7 linked regions of the Homo sapiens genome follow. The protein of the gene in region 4 purifies or fractionates together with the protein of the main gene of each other region. This does not show direct contact. Each region holds a gene or a part of one and is shown on either strand. Other genes may lie near its edges.

Evidence for each region.
Region 1: the proteins of WAC (region 4) and WIPF1 purify together in Homo sapiens (affinity purification with mass spectrometry, with the first as the bait; one large-scale study listed by BioGRID). This does not show direct contact.
Region 2: the proteins of WAC (region 4) and ZC3H13 purify together in Homo sapiens (affinity purification with mass spectrometry, with the first as the bait; one large-scale study listed by BioGRID). This does not show direct contact.
Region 3: the proteins of WAC (region 4) and TLN1 fractionate together in Homo sapiens (co-fractionation; one large-scale study listed by BioGRID). This does not show direct contact.
Region 5: the proteins of WAC (region 4) and TPM2 purify together in Homo sapiens (affinity purification with mass spectrometry; one large-scale study listed by BioGRID and IntAct). This does not show direct contact.
Region 6: the proteins of WAC (region 4) and WASL purify together in Homo sapiens (affinity purification with mass spectrometry, with the first as the bait; one large-scale study listed by BioGRID). This does not show direct contact.
Region 7: the proteins of WAC (region 4) and RBM12 purify together in Homo sapiens (affinity purification with mass spectrometry; 2 studies listed by BioGRID and IntAct, with this or other methods). This does not show direct contact.

What each region holds. Positions count from the first base shown.
Region 1 is NC_000002.12:174,591,305-174,594,804, forward strand, and holds part of WIPF1 (WAS/WASL-interacting protein family member 1), read right to left. Parts: intron 1-3,500. UniProt on the Homo sapiens protein: Plays a role in the reorganization of the actin cytoskeleton. Contributes with NCK1 and GRB2 in the recruitment and activation of WASL.
Region 2 is NC_000013.11:46,042,747-46,046,246, forward strand, and holds part of ZC3H13 (zinc finger CCCH domain-containing protein 13), read right to left. Parts: intron 2,771-3,500; 5' UTR 2,762-2,770; coding exon 2,645-2,761; intron 2,319-2,644; coding exon 2,209-2,318; intron 1-2,208. UniProt on the Homo sapiens protein: Associated component of the WMM complex, a complex that mediates N6-methyladenosine (m6A) methylation of RNAs, a modification that plays a role in the efficiency of mRNA splicing and RNA processing.
Region 3 is NC_000009.12:35,698,822-35,701,195, forward strand, and holds part of TLN1 (talin-1), read right to left. Parts: intron 1,556-2,374; coding exon 1,370-1,555; intron 1,261-1,369; coding exon 1,153-1,260; intron 641-1,152; coding exon 535-640; intron 336-534; coding exon 211-335; intron 113-210; coding exon 1-112. UniProt on the Homo sapiens protein: High molecular weight cytoskeletal protein concentrated at regions of cell-matrix and cell-cell contacts. Involved in connections of major cytoskeletal structures to the plasma membrane.
Region 4 is NC_000010.11:28,606,118-28,609,617, reverse strand, and holds part of WAC (WW domain-containing adapter protein with coiled-coil), read right to left. Parts: intron 1,433-3,500; coding exon 1,187-1,432; exon of another isoform or gene 1,176-1,186; intron 1-1,175.
Region 5 is NC_000009.12:35,687,126-35,691,181, forward strand, and holds the start of TPM2 (tropomyosin beta chain), read right to left. Parts: upstream 2,801-4,056; 5' UTR 2,693-2,800; coding exon 2,579-2,692; intron 2,147-2,578; coding exon 2,021-2,146; intron 1-2,020. UniProt on the Homo sapiens protein: Binds to actin filaments in muscle and non-muscle cells. Plays a central role, in association with the troponin complex, in the calcium dependent regulation of vertebrate striated muscle contraction.
Region 6 is NC_000007.14:123,707,504-123,711,003, reverse strand, and holds part of WASL (actin nucleation-promoting factor WASL), read left to right. Parts: intron 1-1,780; coding exon 1,781-1,915; intron 1,916-3,500. UniProt on the Homo sapiens protein: Regulates actin polymerization by stimulating the actin-nucleating activity of the Arp2/3 complex. Involved in various processes, such as mitosis and cytokinesis, via its role in the regulation of actin polymerization.
Region 7 is NC_000020.11:35,651,663-35,654,900, forward strand, and holds part of RBM12 (RNA-binding protein 12), read right to left. Parts: coding exon 862-3,238; 3' UTR 1-861. Other genes in the region: CPNE1 (copine-1), read right to left, coding at 1,866-1,880.

The sequences.
Region 1 (3,500 bases), on a different chromosome or scaffold from region 4:
AAATTAATACACATGGTTTTAACAACATACGTTTGTCTATTATCCATTGTGGAAACAATAAGATAATGGCCTTTGAATAAACTATCCATCAACTGATTTCTCAGCAAGATATTTCTGGATTGTCATACGTTAAAAAATTTAAAAATCAGCCAGAACCCTAGAGTATGTAAGTGACTGCCAAAGGTTTATTTAATAAGTGAATGAATCATTCAAAAATAATGAAATTTTAGGTGAAAATAGCTGAAGTAAGGGGAGGGATCTAGCAATAACCCTTTCGTAAGGAACTGGCTTTATGGGTTGAGAGAACAGAGTGAAATAATTTGCATAAATGACTTTAAAAATTTAATTACTGTTTCTTCTTTGTTGCTTACACACACACACACACACACACACACACACACCACCCCAACATTTAGAAATTCTGGACTTCCTAGTTCATTCTGTGAATGAAATGGCTGGCATCGTTTGTCTTACTAGAATGCTATTAGGTCAACATCATGGTTTAACACTTACATTTAGACAACATTCACTGATCCCAGATCAACTAGGGCATCTTGCAGCCTCGACTCACTTGTTAAACATGCAATGTTCGCTACAACGAGCACTGTGAGAGAAAGAGAACTGCTCAGCCCACTCCCAACAGTACAGGGGACACATTCTCCTCAATGGCATGGCCAACTAGAGGTCAACCATAGCTCACAGTTCAGTCCAGACGTGCCCCAGGAAACTCAGGGTTTCTTCTTCAATGTGCTCATCTAGGAAAGCAGACTCATCCCTGAATGTAAAATGATTGCCTTCCTTGGGATCAAGAAAGTGGGGTAGTTATTTAAATAAGCTGTTTCTTAGTTTCATAGCCAACTTACAATTAATTCTAGATTGCACTGCCTAGGGCCCACACTACAGAATGACATGAGGTGGGGAGTGATTCCTAATAGTCCCCAGTGAACACAGTTGACAATCCTCCAAAGGCCGGTCTCTAATCCCAAGTGGGCAGGGGTTCTATTAGAGAAGATAAGAAGCAGCTTTATCCAATTACATTTATCATTAATTTGGACTATTCAAAAATATAAAGCATTTTGCTCTATAAATGTTGCTAAAAGTAACCCTTAAATACTATCATACCTAAAATGAATGGTGGAATATTAAACTTCTTTTCCCCAAAAAGATTGAATCAATAGAGGAATATTTTATTTGCTGGGGGTGGGGGAGGGTATCAGAAATAATATAACTGGATAGATTCAAAAATCCAACTGCTCTCTTGCCCTCATTATTTTCTATTTTTATTTACATTTATTTATTGATTTTTTTTTTTTTTTTTTGAGACAGAGTCTGGCTCTGTTGCCCAGGCTGGAGTGCAGTGGTACGATCTTGGCTCACTGCAACCTCCACCTCCTGGGTTCAAACAATTCTCCTGCCTCAGCCTCCCGAGTAGCTGGGATTACAGGCGTGTGCCATCACACTTGGCTAATTTTTGTATTCTTGGTAGAGATGGGGTTTCACCATGTTGGCCAGGCTGGTCTTGAACTCCTGACCTCACGTGATCCACCCGCATCAGCCTCCCAAGATGCTATGATAATAGGCATGAGCCACCATGCCTGAACTCATTTATATTTTACTTTATATATAATGCTCTTAACTCATTTTCATCTATGTATTTCTTGAGTGCTTTTGGCATCTTCAGGTTAGTTTTTTGTTTGTTGTTGTTTTCTTCAAGATTTCTTTTTTTTCTTTTATATTGTAGAGAATACAAAAATATACAAAGATGAAAAAAAAAAGCACTGAAGTTGTATTTAACCACTAAAGGAAGCACTGAATAATAATTAATTTTTATATGAAAAAGGGTTGGGGGTAATAACCAGAGGTAACTCTTTGTTATTTTGATACATGTCCTTCCAGCTTATAAGTACATGTACATCTCTCTCTCTCTCCCTCTCTCTCTCTGTGTCACACATACACATATACACACAATTGTTTGACAAAAAAATATTAACAGAACAAAATTTATAATACATGTAACACAAAAGTGTTTTCCTGAGAAAAGGTTTTTAAATTCATATTGAGTTATTACAACCATAAAAAATAACTGCAAGGGCATTCATTACAAAGACAGTGAATCCACTCCAAGTCACCCTGCAAAAATAAAATCATCGAGCAAACTCAAATTGCTGCTAAGACGGTGAATTTTAAAAAGCATGTCGTTTTGGGATTCCTACTCAATTATTCTTGATTCTATTCTTTAGATACTCCTCCATGATGCAAACTTAGCTGGATGTATTTAAGATCTGAAAACCATTAGAACTAATTAAGATGAATTTGGCTTTGTTCTTCAACTTCCTGTAAAAAATGCTCAACAGGAAAATTGATGCTCGCAGTAAACCACAGTCATCCTGTTTCTTTAACACAATCTTTTCACAGCTGCAGTTGCCTGGAGTTTCTATTTTATGACGCGAGTCACTGCAACAGCTCTACCATCCCTTCCCCCCAGCATGTGGTCTGGCCATTTTAGAAACTTTCAATACCTTTGCAGAAAGGTTCGTTTCTATTATTGCTACTCTTCCTCTCTCCAAGCTGAAGGTCCTTGCTCAGAGCAATAAGCCATGGATACAAGAGGGGAAACAGAAAAGGCAGCTGGACTCCAGAGGAAGCAAAAGGCAGAGAAGAGGAAAACAGCTTTATTAGCAAATCAGCAGCCTCACCCAGTTGGTTCTTATGCATTGTTAGTCTCCATTTGAGCTGAATGTGGAGCACACGCTTGCCATACACAGAATCCCTCATTTCTCAAAATGTACTGCTCTTTTCTCAGTCAATCATCATTGAAAAACAATACTTCAGCAACGTCTGATTAGGTTGTCTTCTTAATGGTAAATGTCAATTTAAGTCTGCTGAACCTAGAAATGCTTCTTTTATAGTTCTTTTAGATAAGGAGGTGATTTATTTTGGCGGGGAGTAGGAAAGGTGTTTTTCAAAGAAGACATTTTGAAGCATCTCGAACATCACTAAGACTGGCTAGGAGCTTGGACACAATTTTACTGCAAGAGTACTGCTAGGGAAATAAAGGTTGCTATGAAGTAAAATTATTTTTTAATCCACTATTGTGCACATTTAATTTTAAAATTAATACAAATTCACAGACATCGAAGACCCTTTTAATAGTGAGAAAATGAAGGTGAGCTGAATGACACGCCTACCTGTCATTATTTAACTGAAGGAAAGGGAAAGGAAACATTTTTATTTTATCCATATAATTAAAGAGTAGCAGGTTTTCTCCCATACTTCCCATCTCTTTAAGGGGTTCAAATCTCCAAGCTAAAATCTGCCTAAATCGCTATCACCACATTTAGTTCTACCAGAGGATTAAGATGTGCCACTGTTTCTCTCTCTCTCTTTCTCTCTCTCTCTCTCTCACACACACATACACACACAGCATATATGTCAGCACACTTGATATATACTGTATTCATTTTATCATTGAAAGTACAGCTTTATGATATAAGCAGAAG
Region 2 (3,500 bases), on a different chromosome or scaffold from region 4:
AATAAGTTTCTTGTATACACATGCCTGTGGTTGGATGCAACATCAATAACTGAGAAAATATTTTATGTACCTTAAGTAAGAATCAAAGCAAATATAGGAGCTTTAAAATTTATCTTAAATTTTAAATTATTTCAGAATAAAGATAAAGGATTCAAGGCAATTTTACAACAGTGATTTTCATATTCTGCTGTAAATTTTTTAACTAAAGGAAAAATACATATTTATACTCAACAGTGGTAAGGCTTTATTATTTATACTAGAAATTTGACAGTATATGGCTATGCAATTATTTTCACTATCAGTGGGAAAAAACAAAGGAGAGATGGAAAACAGACTGCCTTTAAAGACTATTTCTACAACACCTTTAAAACAGGGCAAAAGAAGTTAAGGAATGCTCTGTTCCTCTTTGACTACCAAAAAGTACTATATATAAAAAAGATATAAACAAATCACATAAATATTCACATCTATTTCAAGCAGTCATTGGGCAATCAAATCAGTTCCTTGATTTTATGAATATAAATCATAAGGTTAGTAAAGAAATAATTTGAGTTAATTCACTTTAAAGGATCTCATTAATGTTTACATGCACATGTAATAGATTTATATTAAATGTTTTAACAGTTAAAGCTAAACTTGAAACTGGAATCTCTTACTAAGAACCAGTACTTAAGTGCTCTAAATTATAATGATGTACATGTAAATCCTATGTGCCCTGGTTTCCTTTATATAATAAAACACTTTAGTATGAACTTGTTTCTATCCTAAACAGCACCCAACAGAATGAATGTTTTACACACAGCGAATTCTCAATTAATTATGTAAAAGTCTTGTATATAAACATATAAATAAGCATTCTGTAAAATACATTGCTTTTCTTATCTTTGACTCGCATTATGAACTATGTTTTTCCTCCCGACAAAAAAAATGCACAAATACGAAAGAAGTTATCAGATGGAAAATCATACACAAAATAGCAAAATTATAATAAATATTCTTTATTCTAAGTCTAGCAATGACATTACTTTTTCCCATTTTAGACAAATTTCTCTGACCATTTTTCTCAAAATGATTTCTTGAATAAAAATTCTGAGTCAGCTAATAAATTTCAAAGATAAATTTTAAAATGTATCAAAAGTATAGTATTAAAGCAAAACATTAAAAGTATCGAAATAGTTTCACCAGGTATGTATCTACGTGTATATATACAAGTAAACACACATATACAATAAACACTAATCTTCCCACATTAACGGAAGTGACAAATGACAATCTAAATACAAATAAAACAGTATTCAGAATCACAAATAAACTAAAATGTACAATGTTTACGTGAAAAAGAAGTTGGCTAATGTTGAGGGTTTGAATTTTAAATTCTCCTAAACAAAATCTACCCATACACTACCCCCAAAAAAATCATTCAACTAAAAAAAAAAAAAAAAAATTCCAATTGCTAATGTTCAGTTTTTATAGTGTTGCTATGCTATAGCCAAAACAATCAGTGTAACCAATTTTGGATCTAGGTAAATTATTTCTTTACCAATCAAGTTAAAACTGTTTTTGTGACAAACTTTATGTATATTACATCTTTAAATACCATAAAATAATCATCATGAGGGAACCAAAAGAAAAATAAAAGGTCTTTATTAAGCAAGTTTAATCTAGCCAAGCCTTTATTAAAGGCAAAACGATGTTCGAAATATGGAGCATATTCATCCACATATAAATACATATTTTCATTAACATACTGTGCTAAGGGATTTGGCAAATGCATTTTAACCTATAGAATTTGTACAAAATTTGAATTCAGAACATCTTAAACAGCTAAAATTATACCCTATTTGAATTTTACTATTTTAAGAGTTAAAAATAGCCTCACTAAAAAGAAATTCAGACACCATGGAATTCTGCTGTCTTAAGCAGCAATTTAATACATAATTAGGGGGGAAAAAGTAAGCCATACACATACTACAAAAAGATCTACTGTCAAAACAAATAAATAATGAACAAATAAGTTAATTTGAAAGCAAACATTTTATTAATCTTGAAAATAACAAAAAGATCCTGTCGATCTTCAATTACTGGTAAGACTACCACCAATATAGAAAATCTGACCAAATATATGGTTGTATTTCAGATTTTTATACTAGATAAATTACAAAAGCCATCTTCTAATAGTACATGAACAATACAAAGTTCTCAGTTTACCTTCTATAATTGCTGCTATAACCTTTACCACGAGGTGAAGGGCCATGTACGAATCTACATGTGTTTCCATAGAGGCAGTTGCCAGTCTTCAGCCAGTTACGGCACTGTGTCTAAGAGACAGATATTACTATGTAAATTTCATATTTATTTCTGGAAAAAAAAAATGCTAGCGGGACAAAATTAAAACAAATGCTACCAAAATTCCAGCTAACCTGTGATATATTACTCCCCAAATAATAAAAACTTCAGGAAAAAAATATGGAAAAACCCATAAACCTTATCACCCTTTTCACTTCTTTTTATAAAACACACTTTAAAAAATTTACTGAACAAACATTCCTACAATAAAACAACCTGTTCACCTTTATGATACAAATAAGCATTTCAATAATAGAATTCTAAGAGAACCCCTGTGACTATACTAGTGACAACTCACCTCTGCTGTACTGCCAGTGCTGGGTCCAAGCCTCTCAAATACACTGGGTCTTCGGGATGTGCTATCAGATATAGTCTTGGTATTTTCCACTGTGACCTTCCTTCTAATTTTTGACATTTTGTACTACTTCAACCAAAAAAGAAAGAGGCAAAACTGTAAAATTCCTCAGTTTTAAATAACTGAGCCCACAGCTTACAAGTAGATAAAACTATAGGTAACAGTGTAAAATTACAGGAGATTTTCCTTGGGAGATTAAAAAAAAAAAGCATAGGAGAGGTCACAGGTAAACAGAGATAATATCTTCTAAAACATGCCTTACTGGTGAATTTATAACAGCTGTGAGATCTGTTGGCTAGAATTGTACCTCTTCTGCAGAGTGAACGAATATGATCCTACTCACACAGTGAAGTTTTCATAGTACAATCAACCTCAGAAGATACAGTACAAAATGTTTACTTTATAAAAGTTACTTACAAAAATTGCTTCAAAATTTAGTAACTCAAAGTTGTTAACCATCAACTGGTTAACTGAAAAAGAGTTATGCTAAAGAAAATGGAAAAATAAAATTGGGTGAAAATTTTCATAGCAGAAATTATGTTTCATAAGTTTAAGGGACAACAGCAGTTATGTTCCAAAAATCAGGTTGAGAAAAATGAATGATATTTTAGTATTTTCTTTGCCTGACAGAAGTCAAAACAATCTGATCAAGCATATTTATTTTCCAGTAACACAAAAACAAAACAAAACAAAACTCAATGTTGATAGAAACAACTTTCAAAACAGGACAGACTGTAGAACTAGAAAAAGTCGAGGTGTTTCTATAATCTATACTACACTGACATAAAATTCAAAGGTG
Region 3 (2,374 bases), on a different chromosome or scaffold from region 4:
CTAGTTCTCTCTGGGCAGCCGACGCAGCCTTTACCAGTGCACTGGTGGCTGCTGCAATGGACTTGGCAGCTTCTAGTATCTGCTCCTCAAAGTTCAAGGACTCATCTGCCTCCTGCAATAAGCGAAGGTTGCAGAAAGAGATGTAAAGTCAGAGATGAAGGTGGGGACACTGCCATGGTGAGGGTGGAAGAGGAAGGGAGCAGGACTGACCTTGGGTTTGGCCCGGGGCTTCAGCTGCTCTAGCTTTTTGGCTGCAGCCTCAATGGCGGCTGCAGCTCCCAGGAGCTCATTCTCAGCAATGACTGTGGGGTCCTCTGGGTCTACCCATTCTGTTCCTGGTGGGATGAAGGAAGAGGAAAGAGGCTAAGGCAGAGTGGGGAGGTCAAAAGCACCAGGGAGCATGGTTAGTATCATCAGGCCCTGGCATCTGTGGGGACTATGGTCAGAGGCTAGCACAGAGCTGTCCAGCCAGGAAGCAGAGATCACACCATGATAAGGGTTTTCCATCCGTCCCTGTCCCTGGTCACCCCTCACCCTTCATGGCTTCAGCAGCCTGGATGAGCTCAGTGACGGAACCAGCCACACGCTTTGAATGTCCTGTCAACTGCTGCTTCAGTTCTGGGCTTGGCTTCTGCAGGGTCTGGGCAAGAAGCGGGCAGGGGACAAAGAGCATCACATCTTAGGGTCTACCCTGATCTATGAAATAGGGCAGACCATGGCCCCCTCACCCCTATCCCTAGAGCACTCCACACCATAGCCCTCAAACTCCACGCTGCCTATCCAAGTACACATCATGCATCACACCTCACACGTGATAGAGACAGTGGGGCTGTGTCACTCACCGGCTGACAAGGAGCAAGGAGAATGATGAGATGAAAGAGGAGACGACGAAAGTAGAGAAGGGGGTGGTCAGGTGGGAAGGGAGGAGAAAAGAAAAAGAGGAAGAGGAAGAGGTGACTGGGAGAACCAAAGATGATAAGAAGGATGGGGCCTGGGAGAAAGGGAGACTTGGAAAGGAGAACAGATTTGGGAAGTAGAGGGTGGGGTAGGGAGGAGATCTGAGCAAAACAGACAGCAGGGTGCGAGGCCTGCAGGAAGAGGGCTGTGTATTCAGGGAGGCTGGTATGAGGAACAAGCAACGCCCTCCCTTACCAGCAGTACATGGTCCAGCAGTTCCAGGTAGCCATTGGCACACTCCCGGCCATAGTGCAGGGCTCGAAGCCGCACATCAGGGGCCACTTCTGGGTGGTAAGCTGCTTCCTGTCCCCAGAGTAATATGTTAGCTTTAGGCCCCGCAGATCCCTACAGTTTCTCTCCCACTATGTTCTGGCCCAAAGCTGCCTCACGGAAATGCCTCAAGGATTTCTACCTTGCAAGCCCGAAGCATATCTGCAATAGCACGGCGGCTCAGATTGGCTGTGGCAATGACATCTTCCTGGCGACAGGAATTGCCAGCAGCAACGGCCTTGGCGGTTGCCATGGTGATACCCTTGGTCATTCGGATGAAGTCTTCTGGGGTAGAGGTCTTGGCAGGTGGCTCTGGGGAACAGAAAACCTGTGGGGGCAGAAGAAGAAGAAAGATTTTACAGTGGCTGAGACTATGAGACAGCGTAGAACTCTGTGTGCATGTGATTTGGTGCAGACATTCACACATCACAGTGAATGTAACAAGGCAGTTGGTTATTGTTTCTGACTGAAGCAACTGGGGAGTTTGTTTGTTTGTTTGAAATCACAAAAGTAATTACAAAAGTGGCTTTTGGCTGGGTTTTCATTCCCAAAATAGAGAGAAGCCTTGAAGGGGTGAGAGGCAGAGCTAGGCCATAAAAGATATACAGATGATAGGAGGGCATTTTAGGTAAATGGTAGGACATGAACAACCAAGATGTCACATCGGAAAGTATCAAGGAATGTTCTGGAATATAGGAATGGTGAAGAAAAGGTTATTGGGGACTTGAATATCACACCGAGGAACTTGGACTTTTACATAATATGTGAAAGTCATAAAATATTTTGATGTACGGGTTCAATCTGCAAACATTTATTAAAGATCAGCTAGGTGGCAGATTCTATGCAAGGGGCTAGGGATGCTCCCTGTTCTCATGGAGCTTACATTCTGGTTTTGGACACAGGTAATAAATAAATAAACAAGCAGCAAAACTGAGGACTGTGATTTGGATTATGAGAGAATAGAGACAGTGCTGTGATGAGAACTACTTCAAATAGGTGGTCAGGGAAGGGCTCTCTGAGGAGGTGACATTGAGGCTGAAGCCTGATGAACTGGAAGGAGCACAGTGTTCAAAAAGCTGGAGAGAACTGAGTGGAAGAGCCTGCAGCAGATAAGAGCTTGGCATGTTCTCAGAACTGATGGTGCAGG
Region 4 (3,500 bases):
TGCATCTGGCCTCCTCAAACTATCTAAAAGCCCCACTTTGCCTAAATGAAACATTTACCTACCACACAAGAGAACTGCGTGGTTAGAGAATAAAATAAAAATACAAAAAAATTAAGGACAGTAAGAACAGACTAATGACCAACTAGCCTGAGATAGCTTTATTTTTAGGATAAGAACTTAACCACTTAACACTACTTTTAAGTATATTATGTGAAAATGTACATAAAAATTGATCACTTTATTTTTATTTATTTTGAGATGGGGTCTTGCTCTGTCAGCCAGGTTGGAGTGTACAGGCACCATCTCAGCTCACTGCAACCTCCGTCTCCTGGGTTCAAGCGATTCTCGTACCTCAGCCTCCCGAGTAGCTGGGATTCACAGGCATGTGCCATCACGCCTGGTTAACTTTTGTATTTTTATTAGAGATAGCGTTTCACCATCTTGGTCAGGCTGGTTTCAAACTCCTGACCTCAGGTGATCCACCCGCCTCGGCCTAAAAATTTATCATTTTCAACAGAAAATTTTGCAGTGCTTTTAGGAATTAACGTGTGAATCTGAATAGTTTCCAAATTAACACATCTACTTTTATTCATACTTTTTCAAAGTGGCTGACTAAATATTCTGAAACGTAAGTAGCATTACTGAAAAGCAAGGCTGGAATTAAATAATGCAATTCACCAGGAAAAAAATGGCAACATTTTATCTAGTACCTATCTCCTCCCTTCTCAGAATTTTTTGAAAGTATTTTAAGTAGCTACCTGAATTCCTACTTTTCTAGTAATTAGCATATTTTAAATATTCTGAGTAATTATTTATACAGGTTTTTTAGAAACATACCAGAAGTTTTAATACCGATTTCAACAAACGCTCGATTGTTTTAATGTAAAATTTCACCATACACATTATGTATATAGAATGGCTTACCTCCAGTAACTACCAGACACATAACAAGTATTGAAAAATATACACAAGATCCAAGCACCACTAACTCAATTATACTACCAATGGTCTTAAACTACAGTGGATATAAATTTCCAAACTCCAAAAACAAAAAACAAAACAAAAAAAAGTGTTCAACTATAAATTTCAAAAGAAAACAAAGACCATTCCTAAACTGGGGATTTTACTACTTACATAACTTTGCACAATGCAAATAAATTTTTAAAAAACTGTTATGAAGATTTACCTTCATTTATTTTAGATATGTCCACATTAGAATTATTAAGCTGCAGCGTGGCTTGCAAAGCAGGAAGCAATTGTCTAAGAAGATTTGGGTCCTGAAGTAAGGGAGGTATTGGCGACTGTGGAACAGGAGAAACAGGGACCGCTGAAGCAGATGTTGGAGGTGCAGATGTGGGGTTCAGTCCAGAGGCAGAAGACGTGGAAGGAGTTGTGCAAGAATGTGATACGGGTTTGTCTCCTGATGTAGATTCTAAATAAAAAGATAATCAGCCTGAAAAATTACCTGAATAGAGAAAATTGGAACAAACATCAAAGGAACACCTCTCATGTGCCAGGCACCTAACGTAAGTAATCTCATTTAACCCTTACACACTGGAGCACACAGAAGATGCTCAGTAAACATTCACATGACTAGAATAATGATTTAGACATTTCTCACCCTATTTCATAGGTAAGAAAGCTGAACAAGAAAGGTTAGATAACCTGAAGCCATAAAACCTGGTAAATCATACCCATATCTGATTTGAAAAGTACCAATCTGTCTACCACCAATGCTATCTCAAAGATAATTATTTATTAACCACACATTCAAATAAGCTTCCATTAGGATAAAAGGACAATATAATTCTACAGGATTTAATTTATATCTCATGAAATAAGGTGAAAAATGTTTATGGCCACAGTAACAACCTACCTCAATAAGACACTGGTCTTAATACAAATCAGGGTAGGTACACCAAGGTGGTTACACCCAAAATGGGCTAAAGATGTGATGAGAAGAGACTTTTATACTTAATAACTGAGTTTTGTAACTACATACTTCCCTTTTGTAATTCAATATATAAGGCAATGAGCTATTTGTTTCATTTTAAGATTATTAAAAAGGACACTTTAATATTAAAAACAACCCACCTCATAGTATTTAGAAATAAAGGATGTATAAAATACGCATGGAAAATTATTTGAAAGCTGTTGTTTCAATTATTTATATAGATTTAATGTAACTGTAATCAAAGCCCCAAGAGCACTGTTAATACTATTTGACAAGCTAGTAACATAAATCCTGAAGATTCCATAACCTGAAGAAAAAGAACACTGCCAGCAGGACATGCCCTGCCAAATATAAAAACTTACATTTAAAACAAAGCCAGTTAAAGGTAGACTGAACTTTTGTGTAGGTATTTAAGTCTTTAAAACTCTTAGAGGAAAACACAGAAAGGTATCCATAACACCAAGCAGATGTGTAAAGTTACAAAAAGCAGAACAATTATATTCAAAGTAGTGGTAATCAGACTATTTAAAGAATTTCTATACGTCAAAATAGACAAACTGCCCAATAGAAAAATGTACAGAAGACATTATTTCAAAGAAGGAACTTGAATGCCTAGGAAATTCAAGAAAAGATGCTCAACTTCATTCAGAATCAGGACAATGTAAAATAAAGCAACATAACCCTTTACACTCACCATAATGCAAAAATTTTAAAGTCAGACATACCAAATGTTGGCAAAGAGTAATGAGAACATTTACTCAACATTTCTGATGGATAATAAATTGATATAACCACACTGGAAAGTAATTTGGCATTATTTAGAAAAGTTGAAGATACGAACACTACATGACCCAGTAATTCCCCTTTAGGTACACACCCTCAGTGAAACTCAGATATATGTAAATCAGGAGAAAATTCAAAGACTATCACAACAGCACTCTGTTTGCTTTTAGTATAAAACTAGAAACAACCTATTTCTTTAAGATTTTCAAGATCATATATACAGTACTAGCAAGCTTATTGAAAACAGACTCCCCTATGAGTCTTTTTACACTACTATAATGGTCGAAAGAACTAGGGATAATAGCTCTCTAAAGTGTGGATCTCACAGCTGATTTAAGTACATTTCAAAAATGTGTTGATTAACCATGATGAACTCAGAAGGACTAAGATATTTTTATTTGCGTAAGGGTATACACTTTTAAAGGAAGGTGCTTGAATCCAGCAGACTGCCTATTATTTTCAGCTTTACTGTTCTGGATTCATAGACAAGCATAAAGAAACTCAAATAAAACGATAAATGTTTTCCTTGCGAAAATTCTGCTGTCAGATGGACGTGGTGGCTCACGCCTATAATCCCAGCATTTTGCAAGGCTTGAGCCCAGGATTTCCAAGACCGGCCTGGGCAACACGGCAAAACCCCGTCTCTACTAAAAATACAAAAAATTAGCCAGCTGTGGTGGCTTGCGCCTGTGGTCCCAGCTACTCAGGAAGCTGAGGTGGGAGAACCACCTGAGCCACGAAGTCGTGGCTGCATTAAGCCGTG
Region 5 (4,056 bases), on a different chromosome or scaffold from region 4:
AATCCACTGCTTTTAATACTCAGTTAATCAACAGGACCTTCGGTGAGACTCATAAAACTAAACAGGTTCTCTTACTCCATGCTAGATCCACTGAATTGGGATGTGTAGGGCGGGGGCTTGGGAATCTTCTCTTTTTTTTTTAAAGCCCCCGAGTGATTCTGATGATAAGCCAAGTTTGGGAAATTGTAAAATAACATGCAGAAAGCACTGAGTACATTGCCTGCACAGGGTCCACATTCCATAAATATTAGGTTATCCCCTTTCTCTGTCAAAAACAAGGACACAGAGACCCTGAGATTTCAGAGTGGAAAGGAGAGAGGACCTGTGTAGGGAAAGGAGGTGGGGGGAGGGGCTGGGGGCAGCACTTGGACACAGCATAGGAAGCAGGTCCTTGGTCGGACTGTAGGGCAGGAGAAACAGCACCATATATAGAGAGTAGATGGTAGCTTGTCTTCCAGGTGCTGAAGGCACCTGGAGCTTGGCCACCTAGAGTGACAAGAGCCCATCATGGGCACAGGGCCGGATGACAGTGTGGAAGCATTCTGGGGACAGCATTGGGGGTTGGGAAGAATCACTGTGGGGGACATTGGAGTACTACCCTAGAGAGAGGTGAGACTGTAAAAGAAAAACTCTGCATGATGGTGGGGTGACAAAAGACTCTGGAAAGTTTGGGAAGTCCTGGGGTCCTCATCATGGGACTGATATGTGCCATTTCCTGCCTCTCAAGCTCTTCCCAGTTACGGGGGCGGCTCTCTAACCACAGGACAGGCACTACTGTCCCCATTAGAAAAATGGGAAGCAAGAGAGAGGGAGAAACTGAGGCACCATGTAAGTTGAGTGCTGTGTTCAAGGTCACCAGGAAGCTTGGGCAGTCTTTCCTATCTGCTCCTGGTGCTGCGGCTCTGCCTCCCCAGCTCTGTCCCTGTCCCCCCTGCCCCTCCAGCCCCCACCAGCAACTTGGGTTTCCAATCTTGCCTCCAGCTGCACTGGGCCTTGGTTATTTATAGAGTGTCAGATGCCCAGGGTTGTCTGTGCTAGCAGCTGCAGGTCAGCTCCCTCCCAAGTGCCAGGACTGGTGGAGAACCAAAACTGGAGGCTGGAGGTCACAGAAGCCCAACCCCTGGGGGGCTGGGAACATGAGCAGTCGACACAAACAGCTATGTCATCTCTGATGTTCAGACCATGCTTTATGCTAATCTAACCATAGGTTCATCTTAAAACAATCCTGGGTGGAAGGAAGATGGGGAAACTGAGGCAGAGAATGGGGAAACTACCACCACACCAAAGCCATATGGCCATTCTCCTACCTTAAGCTGGGGGTTGGGAATGGCAGGAAGTGAAGTCTGGTTGGGGTTGTGGGGTGGGCAGAGAAATCTCAGGGTAAATGACCTGCCAAGGTAGCTGCTTTGGCATTTGTGGCCCTGTCCCTCTGCCCTGTGGCCTGGCATGGTCTCCAGGCTGACAGCTTAATGAGGGTAAATGAGGAGCCATTAGAACCTGAGCTGGGGCCCCAGGGCACAGCAGGGCTGCTGAAGCCAGAGGTCAAGGCCAGGGAATTTCTAATGGCCCCTTAGGGTTGTAACTCAAGTGGGGTCTCATCTCTGGATCCCTCTCCCTCCTCCTGCAGGCTAGTACCTCACATCCACATCCCCCCATCCCCAAACGGCTGCAGTCTCCTCTCCAATTTCAGCTGGAGGATTAATTGAGGTAGATGGTAAATTCTTATACCTTCCACCCCCACAATGACTCATTGCTTGATCACTGTACATTCTAAAAGCTGGAACCAAACAGAATTACAGGGCTAAGTCCTCTGGGGGAAGTGGTAGGTGGTTTTGATTTATCCACTGTCTTGGATTACTTGTGTAAGTTTACCCTAGCCCTGGTTACTGAGATGAAACCATTTCTCTCCTGGCGCTGGGGACATAAGGGGATAAGGTGCCCCAATCCTCTTATTCCCATACCCGGGGGGCCCCTTCCCAGAGCCCTAACTCCTCCCATTGTCCCCCAAGTCCACACTCACATCAGTGGCCTTCTTCTCGGCCTGCTCCAGTTTCTCCTGGGCCTCCTTCACGGATTCAGAATACTTTTCCACCTCATCCTCTGTCCCCTTCAGCTTCTTCTGGAGGGCCTGCTGCTCCTCCTCCAGCTGGGACAGAGGGGACTTGGTCAGCCAGGCTGGGAGGGGGCCCAGGCCCAGAATGGAGACGCGGTGTGTGTAGGGGCGCTACTAAGATTTGGAGGCTACTGGGATGGAAGCGGAATAACATAAAAGGGACAGTACAGTCAAGGGTACTGGTGGGACCCGTTGAGGGTACAGAGAAAACTTCAGGCCCCAAGGAGCAGGACCAACCGCGCTCTGCAAAGGCAGAGTGGAAACCAGGGGCCTGGGGCTTCCCCAGGCTATTGTAGGGGAGAGAAGCGGCTCTGGCGAAGGCCCTGAGGGTACTGCGAAGGCCCAGCCCCCACCCTGGGTGAGAGAGAGCCTTGGCGGGCAGGCCCGGGGCTGGGGGACCCATGGCAGCGGCCCACCCTTGCCCTAGGCGCGGGGAGAGCAGGCTGCACTGGGCCCGGCCCTAACCTGCTTGCAGCGGTCCTCAGCTTGCTTCTTGTCGGCTTCGGCCTGCTCGGCGCGGTCGATGGCGTTCTCCTTGTCCAGCTTCAGCATCTGCATCTTCTTCTTGATGGCGTCCATGGCTGCGGTGGGGGGTGGGCCGGCCGGCAGGCGGTGAGGACCGGACGGACTGGGCTGGGTGAGCGGACTGGGTGCACCGGTGGCAGGCGAGGAGGACGGAGCGGGACTGGGACGTCCCGGCCACGCGGGCGCCTAAAAGGCGGGGAGGGACCGGGCGGGGCCGGCAACCAGGACCCTCCCCCACCTCGGCCCAAACCTTGTAGGGGCAGAAGCACGGCCCGGCCGGGGGGTGCGGCCGCCCCCTTCGCCCACCCACTGGGGACCGCCTCCCTTGGGGTCCCGCCCCCATCCCCCTCTTCCCTGCCAGCCGTCGGAGGAAAAAGTGGCCGACGGTCGGCTGGAAAAACCCCGGCGATGCGAAGGGGAGGGGACCCTTGGGCTGGGGGCTCCGTGCTTCCTCTGAGTGACAGCCGGACCCAGTGGCAGCTGCGGCTGGGGCCCCTGGGGCTATTTCGGGGCGTGAGCTCACGGCAGCTGCCCGGGCGCAGGGACCGGCGTGCCCCCCCTCAGCTGCAGCAGCCGCTACCCTTAATTTAGAAGTTTCCTGCAAATCCCCCCGGATTAAATGTCTCTCGGGAGGCGGAGCTCCTCGGCAGTTTGAGTGCCTCAGTTTACCCTGAGTCCCTCTAGGTTTGCGTTATCGACGTGGTGGTAGTAGCGGAGTCTCATCGGGAGCTTGGGGAAACTGAAGCAGGAAGCGAGCCCAGAGCCCCGGTCGCGGTGGGGAGTGTGGCCGGGCTTGCTGCCCCCAGGACCGGCCTGACCTCTCATCCCCTCGCCTCCCCTCCCAGCCCCTGCCCCTGGAGCCAGGCCCTTCCTGCGAGCACCCGGCGGCTCAGGACCCAGCTCCCCGCCCCGCCCCCCACGTGCCCCGCATATTTTCCACGCGGCTGCGGCCAGGCTGGTCACCGCGCGTTCCCCGCCCCCGCTCCCACCCGGACGCGTCCCGAGCCCCTCCGCTCCCCGCCCCTGGCTCCGCCTGGCCCCACTCCCCTCCGCGCGCCTTCCCTCTTCTCCCCCGCTCCCCGCGGACGCTCCTCTCTTTCCCAGTGGGCCAACTTTATGCTGAAATTTCTTTTCTGCCCTTTTTTGGGATGTTTCCCCATTGGGAGGCGGAGCCGGGCTGCGGCGGGGAAGGCGGAGGGCGAGGGGAAGAGTCACTGAGCTGCGGGGCATAGGGGGTCCGGGGCGAGGTGCCTTCTCCCACCCAGGCCGCCAAACCAGCGCCGGAGCCGGGTCGTGGGGTCTGGGAGTCGGAGGCGCGAGGCGCGAGGGTGTTTGTTTTCGTTTTTCCCTGGGGTGGGGTGGGGGGAAAGGAAGTGGAGAGCCGCCGGGAGGAGGGGGAAGGGGAGGAGAGAACAAGC
Region 6 (3,500 bases), on a different chromosome or scaffold from region 4:
AAAAAGACTTTATGCGAATTCTCCTTAGAACTAACAAATTGCTTGTTTGATTTTTGCATTCTTCAGCCTGGTATTTGGTACCTTTAGATAGTGTATGCAAGACGCATTTTTCTGAAGTTTTCAGTGCTGGCAGCAGGATGCCTGTGGCACTATCATCCTGAGATTGTGCACTTGCAAACACAAGTGTGTTTTGAGCAGGCCAAAAAGTGTCCCACATTCTTCAGTCTCCTCTTTGAAACCCAGTGTCCCAGGATACACATTTTTTGTTTTTAAGTTATCATAATTTTTATTGACTCTTGCAGAAATTTTTCTGTTCCTTTGTGTCCTACTCAGTACTGTATGTGAAGTTCAAGGTTGAGTTTGGTCTGTAATGTTAAAAACATAACATTGAACATTGTTATCTGAGCAAGTCTTTATGGACTTTTGATCCTAACAGTATACTGATCTTACATTTCTGAATTTAGTATCTAATTATAAAAGATTTGTGCATATAATTGTTCTTTGAAATTCCTCTTACCAAAAAAGGGCACCCCTCAGGCATAGTTCAGTAAACCTAAAACAGCATATCTTCAAATCTTAATGTAGTCTATTTTTTATTACAGAGCCCAAATTCCGTTGAACTAAGGTACCATAATTACTTAATCAGCTCCTATTTTAGGTTATTTCAGTTCTTCCTCTTTAAAAAAATATATATTTATATGAAATATTTTATTTTTATATTTATATTAAAATATGAAGTATTATATTCTAAATGATTTTCTTAATTTCTAGTTTAGAAGTGAAATTACTTTATCAGAAAACATAATTATGGCTTTCAGAGGATTTGTAAGTGCTTTATCAGTGTAAGTGTGTATCACTTTCATAGAAACTTAAGGTTGAATAGTTACATTCTAGGTTATAAAGTAAACTTAATTTAGAATAAAATTAGTTTACACCTTTTCATGATATAGTCTTGAGGAAGGGGGCAACATGGTGTACTGGAAAATCCTAATGCCCTGAAGTGTCCATTGCATGTAACGAGTTAGCTTCCCTCCTATACATCTGAAAGGGTTCTATTTAGGGACTATCCTTGGTAAAATTGAGACAATAGTCACTCAAATCTTTTTCATATCCTCAGTATAGCATTAAAACTGCGTGGCCACTTGTGCAAATCACTTACAATCTTAAACTCACTTTAGAAAGGAGATACTATAATCTGCCTTCCAGGGTGGTAATACTGCTTTCAAGTTTGTCTCAATCCTTATCTAGATAAGTGCTTAACTGCTTTATACAAGTCAGCCATTACTAATGCTACTACTTCATTGCTTAAGTGTTCACTTTATTGGGAAACAGTGTAATAGGGGGAGTAAGAATGCTAGATTTGAAGTCACAAATTGCCTGGATTTGGAATTTCAGCTCTGCCATTTAGCTGTGTGGTATTGGGCAAATTAACCCCTTTAGTGTCGGGTTTCTCAAGTAAAAAATGAAGTTATCATAGTAATAACAAATGAGGCTATATTTAAAAGTGATTAACACATTTCCTAACACATTTTAAGCATCAATAAATGTTTTCAGTAATTATTGTTATGTGATTATTGTATTAGTTATTTATTACTACATAAGAAATTACTTCAGAAACTAGTGGCTTAAAATAACAATACATGTTTATTATTTCCTTGTTTCTGTGAATCAGGAATTTAGGAGCAGCTTAGCTGGGTGGTTGCGGTCAAGCTGTCAGCAGGGGCTATGATCATCTACATATTATTTTGAACCTAATGGTTATAAATTTTATATTTTGCAGACTATGTCTTCAGCAGTGGTGCAGTTATATGCAGCAGATCGGAACTGTATGTGGTCAAAGAAGTGCAGTGGTGTTGCTTGTCTTGTTAAGGACAATCCACAGAGATCTTATTTTTTAAGAATATTTGACATTAAGGTGAGTTTTGTTTTGCTTTCACTTTAAACTAGGTGATTAGGTTTTCTATATCAATTATAATTTAGTTTAGATTTGTTTATCCTATATGTGATATTTAAATTTATACATAAACTAATATTAGAAGAGTGAAGCTTGGTTTTTAGATATTGCATACGGAAATCATGACCAAATGGGAACATGTCTGAAGCCAGAATGTGAATAGTTTCCTATTTTATCTTTCTCCTGCTACCACGCATTAAGGCTTTTTTTTTTTTTAAATTATGCCTGTTGGTTCTTGGGCTTTCTTTACACTCTGTATTTTTTTAATGAAACTCTTTTATTCCACCTGGTTCATTATAGAATAGCGTAGATAGTCTGTTCAGGTAACAACAAAATAATATTTTAGCTCAGTATGTACTGTTATTTAGCCCAGGTTTAAAACATTTCAATATCTATAAAAATCTGTTTGCTACTCATTTTTCCTTATATTGTTTCTCATGATAGATATATTCAGATTTTCATAGCTTTATATCCCTCCCTTCCAATCATAAATCACATTGTTATAGATTGAATACCTTGTTAGGTATTCATTTCTTACAGTTGTCATAAAAATATTTTGCTAAGATGAAGTCTCCATTATTTTTTTAAAAAACCTTTCTGTAAGTAAGCCTCCATGATTAATATTTATATGTGGCAATAAGTGCAATGAGATTTTAATTACAAAAAACTAAAACTGCCTTTAAACTCTTGGGCGCTAATATGACCTGATAGATAACAGTGAAGAGATTTTTACACCTCTGGTCTCAGCTTTATTTGTAAAATCAGATAACCATCTTGGTTTGTTATGAGGTATTTCACTGAGATTAAATGAGATCTCAGTTATGGTATTTGGTAAATTAGTGCTTCTTTTGTTGTTGTTGTTGTTGTTTTGAGACAGGGTCTTGCTCTTGCTCTGTCACCCAGCCTGGAGTGCACAGCTTACTGCAACCTTGATCTCCTTGGCCCAAGCAATCTTCCCACCTCAGCCTTCTGAGTAGCTGTGACTACAGGTGCATGCCACCACACCTGGCTAATTTTTGTATTTTCTTATAGAGATGGGTTCTGCTGTTTTGCCCAGCCTGGATTCAAACTCCTGGACTCAAGTGATCCTCCTGCCTCAGGCTCCCAAAGTGCTGGGATTACAGGCCTGAGCCACCAGTCCCGGGCTAAATTAGTGCATCTTAATGTCTGCTTCCAAGACAGCTGAGAGATATGACATGCTTCTGTCACTAGCAGTGGCTTACTAGTAATCACTAGCAGTGGCTAACTATGGCAGTGATTCTGGGGGGTGGGGAACACATACGTAGTTTGAAAGAAACCCCCAAGTGCTTTGACATATTTCTCATAACCATTGAGAAGCACTATTTAGAAATGGCATACACTTACTACTCCACTAAGAAGAAAGGGATTCCATTGCAGTGGTTATAATGTGTGAACAGTGTATTTTACATATTTTTAAATTGTGGTCTAGGTAGAACCTTGCATTTCTGAATAGGGCAATGACTATCTTTCTCTAACCACTTATTTCCAATTGCTGGACACTCATAATTCGTCACCTTTGGTATTA
Region 7 (3,238 bases), on a different chromosome or scaffold from region 4:
ACACATTATTAAAAGTGGTTTCTGGTTTTCGATACCATCCAAACAACATGAACAATTTTTAAACTGACTAACCTAAATCGTGGCGGTCAAACCAAAAAGGCTCTGGTAGATAAAGGACTCCATAGTTTATTTTTATGGCAAAAGTCTTATTCCACACAGTTTTAAGTGTGACATTAGAAATCAAAGTTTGAGGTTATAGCACAAACGAAGTGTGGACTTTTATATTTAGGGAAAAAAACCAACAAAACAGTTCTGCTCATTTACAAATGAGTCAATTAGACAAACAAAGCAGCAACTTCTGAAGCAGGACTGTCTATACAGCAAGGACCCTTAAGAAGCAATAAAGGTACATACAATGAATCTGTATACAGAAATTTTATTCAATTTTAAAAGAAAATGAGGACTTTAGACAAAGCTTTACCCTATAACAAAGCAAATCTGTCCAGCTTTAAACCAAATTCTGAGAGTAGCCAACTTCTATTTTCAGCAGCTGGCAAGAGCACCCTCAATGAGTTCTACTGACATTTCTATTTTCTTCATCCCATATGGTATAAAACAAAACCAATCTAGACTCCTTGATAAGCTTTATGTGGTCATTTGAGTTTTACAAATGGTTTCTCTAATGGTATGCCAAAATCATTTATGTGTTCTCTCCAGATAGCTTTACTGTAACATACAGCAATGTTTATCCTGGTGAGTGAGTCTTCTGTAAACAGTCAACCAATGCTCTATGTTATGGAAACCAAGCTATATGCAATTGAAACAATCCACAGGTTCTAACCTGGAAATACTAGGAAAACAATCTGGATGCATTAATCACAGCAATATGAAGATCTACCCTATAAAAAATGATGTGAATGGCTACCCTAATACAAGTTTTACTTTTCTTGAACCTATAGGCCTGTCATTTAAGTCAATGACAGCAGCTGTGGCTTCATCCCGAGACTCAAAGGCCACCATGGCTTCACCTGTGGGCATACCTTTTTCATTGTATTTTAAACACACTGAGCCTGGGATTACTTGATAGCCATAAAAGAAATCTAAAATCTCATCAATAGACACAGTAAAGGGCATGTTTTGCACTTTAATTACTGTCGGTCCTGGTTTTCCAGAACTAGATGCAAAGCCAGGGGGACCACCAATATGGATTGGGCCAGGGCCGGGGCCGGGGCCGGGGCCAGGCCCAAAAGCTGGTGGCCCACCCAAATGCCCAGGGGCACTTCCAAGACCAGGAGGGCCACTTCCAAACCCCGGGGGACCGCCTAAGCTACCAGGGCCATTTCCAAAATTCTGAGGGCCCCCTCCAAATCCCGATGGCCCACTTAAATTGTTTGGTCCACCTCCAAAACCCGGAACATCCAGTCCTAGACCAGGCAAACCACTGTTTCCAACTGAAGGCATACCAGGCCTAGCATCACCAAAGGCCCCGCCTCCTAATCCTGGAGGAGGGATTGGTGGCCCAAAGGCATTTGATCCACCAAAATTACCAGGAAAGTTAAATGGAGGCCCATTATTGGCTTCCTTTGATCCTACAGTCAGGAAGGCATGCTCTTCACCTCCTGCACTAGGTATTCCTGCACTGGGCATTCCCGCACCAGGCAGTCCTGCACTGGTTATTGCTGAACCAGGCAGTCCTGTGCTGGGCAGGCCTGCACCGGGAAGTCCTGCACTGGGCAGTCCCACACCGGGCAGTCCCGCATTGGGCATTCCTGGAACTGCAGGATTACCTGGCACAGGCATCTTTAATCCCTTTTTTCCTTGGGCAGGGGGATTTTTCTCAATCTCTCTCATATCTTCTAGGGTAACTACATGAACAAAAGCTTCTCTCCCATTAAGTTTTTTACGGTGTAAGCGTTCAGACTTACGTGCATCATCTTCATTTTTAAACTGAACCAATGCCTGTCCTAGACCTTGCCCATTGTTATCAACAAGAACATGTACAGCATTTTCATCCACTGGGATTCCTTCTAGGAACTGAAGAACATCCATCTTTGTAATGCTGAATGGAATATTTGTTATGTGGGCACAGACTTTGGCAGAGTTGACATCCCCCTCTGGATTTAGTATCATTTCCCTCTGGTCATAGCTGAAGTTCTGCAGTCTTTTTCGAATCATATCTATCTTTTCTAGCATACCTTTCTTAGTAATTGGATGAACTTGAATAAAGCGATTGCCCATGTACTGTTTATGACGACACAGAGCAGCCTTATAGTCAGCCTCATTTCTGAACTCTACAAAGCCTTCGCCAGTTGCTTTCCCATTGGGTCCATAAGCTATATAAATACTATCTTCCACAATATCCAGCTTTTTAAAAAAATCAATGACATGTTTGTTTTCTGCTTCAAATGGTAGCCCTTTCAAGTAAACACAAAAACCAGCCTCATGTGGTGATCTTGACCTTGATCTTTTCTGCCCACTGGGCGATTTTGACCTGGGAAGTGTCTGAGGAGGGGGATGAGTTTGTCCAGAAGGTCCCATATTTTGCTTAAAAGTGATATGGCCTCCAGCAGCTACCCACTGTCTTTCTGTGGCAGGGCTAACTTCCACATAGCGTTGAATCATCAGCATTCTGTTTCGTTTCAAAGCTTCAAATGTATCTTGAGGGGAGAGAAACTTAACCAATCCATTCCCATTATTTCGACCTACATGATCTTTCAACAAATGCACTGCATCAACACGGAGCCCATGAAAAAAATCTCTGACATCATTTTCCATTGCAGAAAAGGGCATTCCATGCACACTGACATACAGATCATCAGGGTTGATGGGGAGTGGCTTCACACTGCTCTGAGAGTTCATCTGGATAGGGTTAACAGGATTCAACGGACCAAGAAACATAGGATTCAGATTATTGTTCAAATTCATAGGTGCTCCAGAGCCATTCATTCCAGCAGGTAGAGGTGCCACAGGTGGCGGATTCAAGGGCGGCATGCCCGACATGGGTGGCAGTGGGGTCATGGGTGGCACAGAAGGAACTGGGGGAATCGGGGGCACAGGAGGCACAGGAGGCAATGTAGGTACTGGAGGAGGAACTGGAATTGGGGGAATGGATGGCATTGGTGGCAGAGATGGCATCGCTGGAATTGGAGGAATTGGTGGCGGCGGGACTGTGTTCATTGGAGAGGCTGTGCTTGGAACAGTTGAGCTAAACGTTGGGCTCCCAAAGGAAGCCCCCATATTTGGAGGAGCTGTTCCTACGCTGGCTGTGGAAAATGTCTGTATGTTTTTGTTGCTTTCA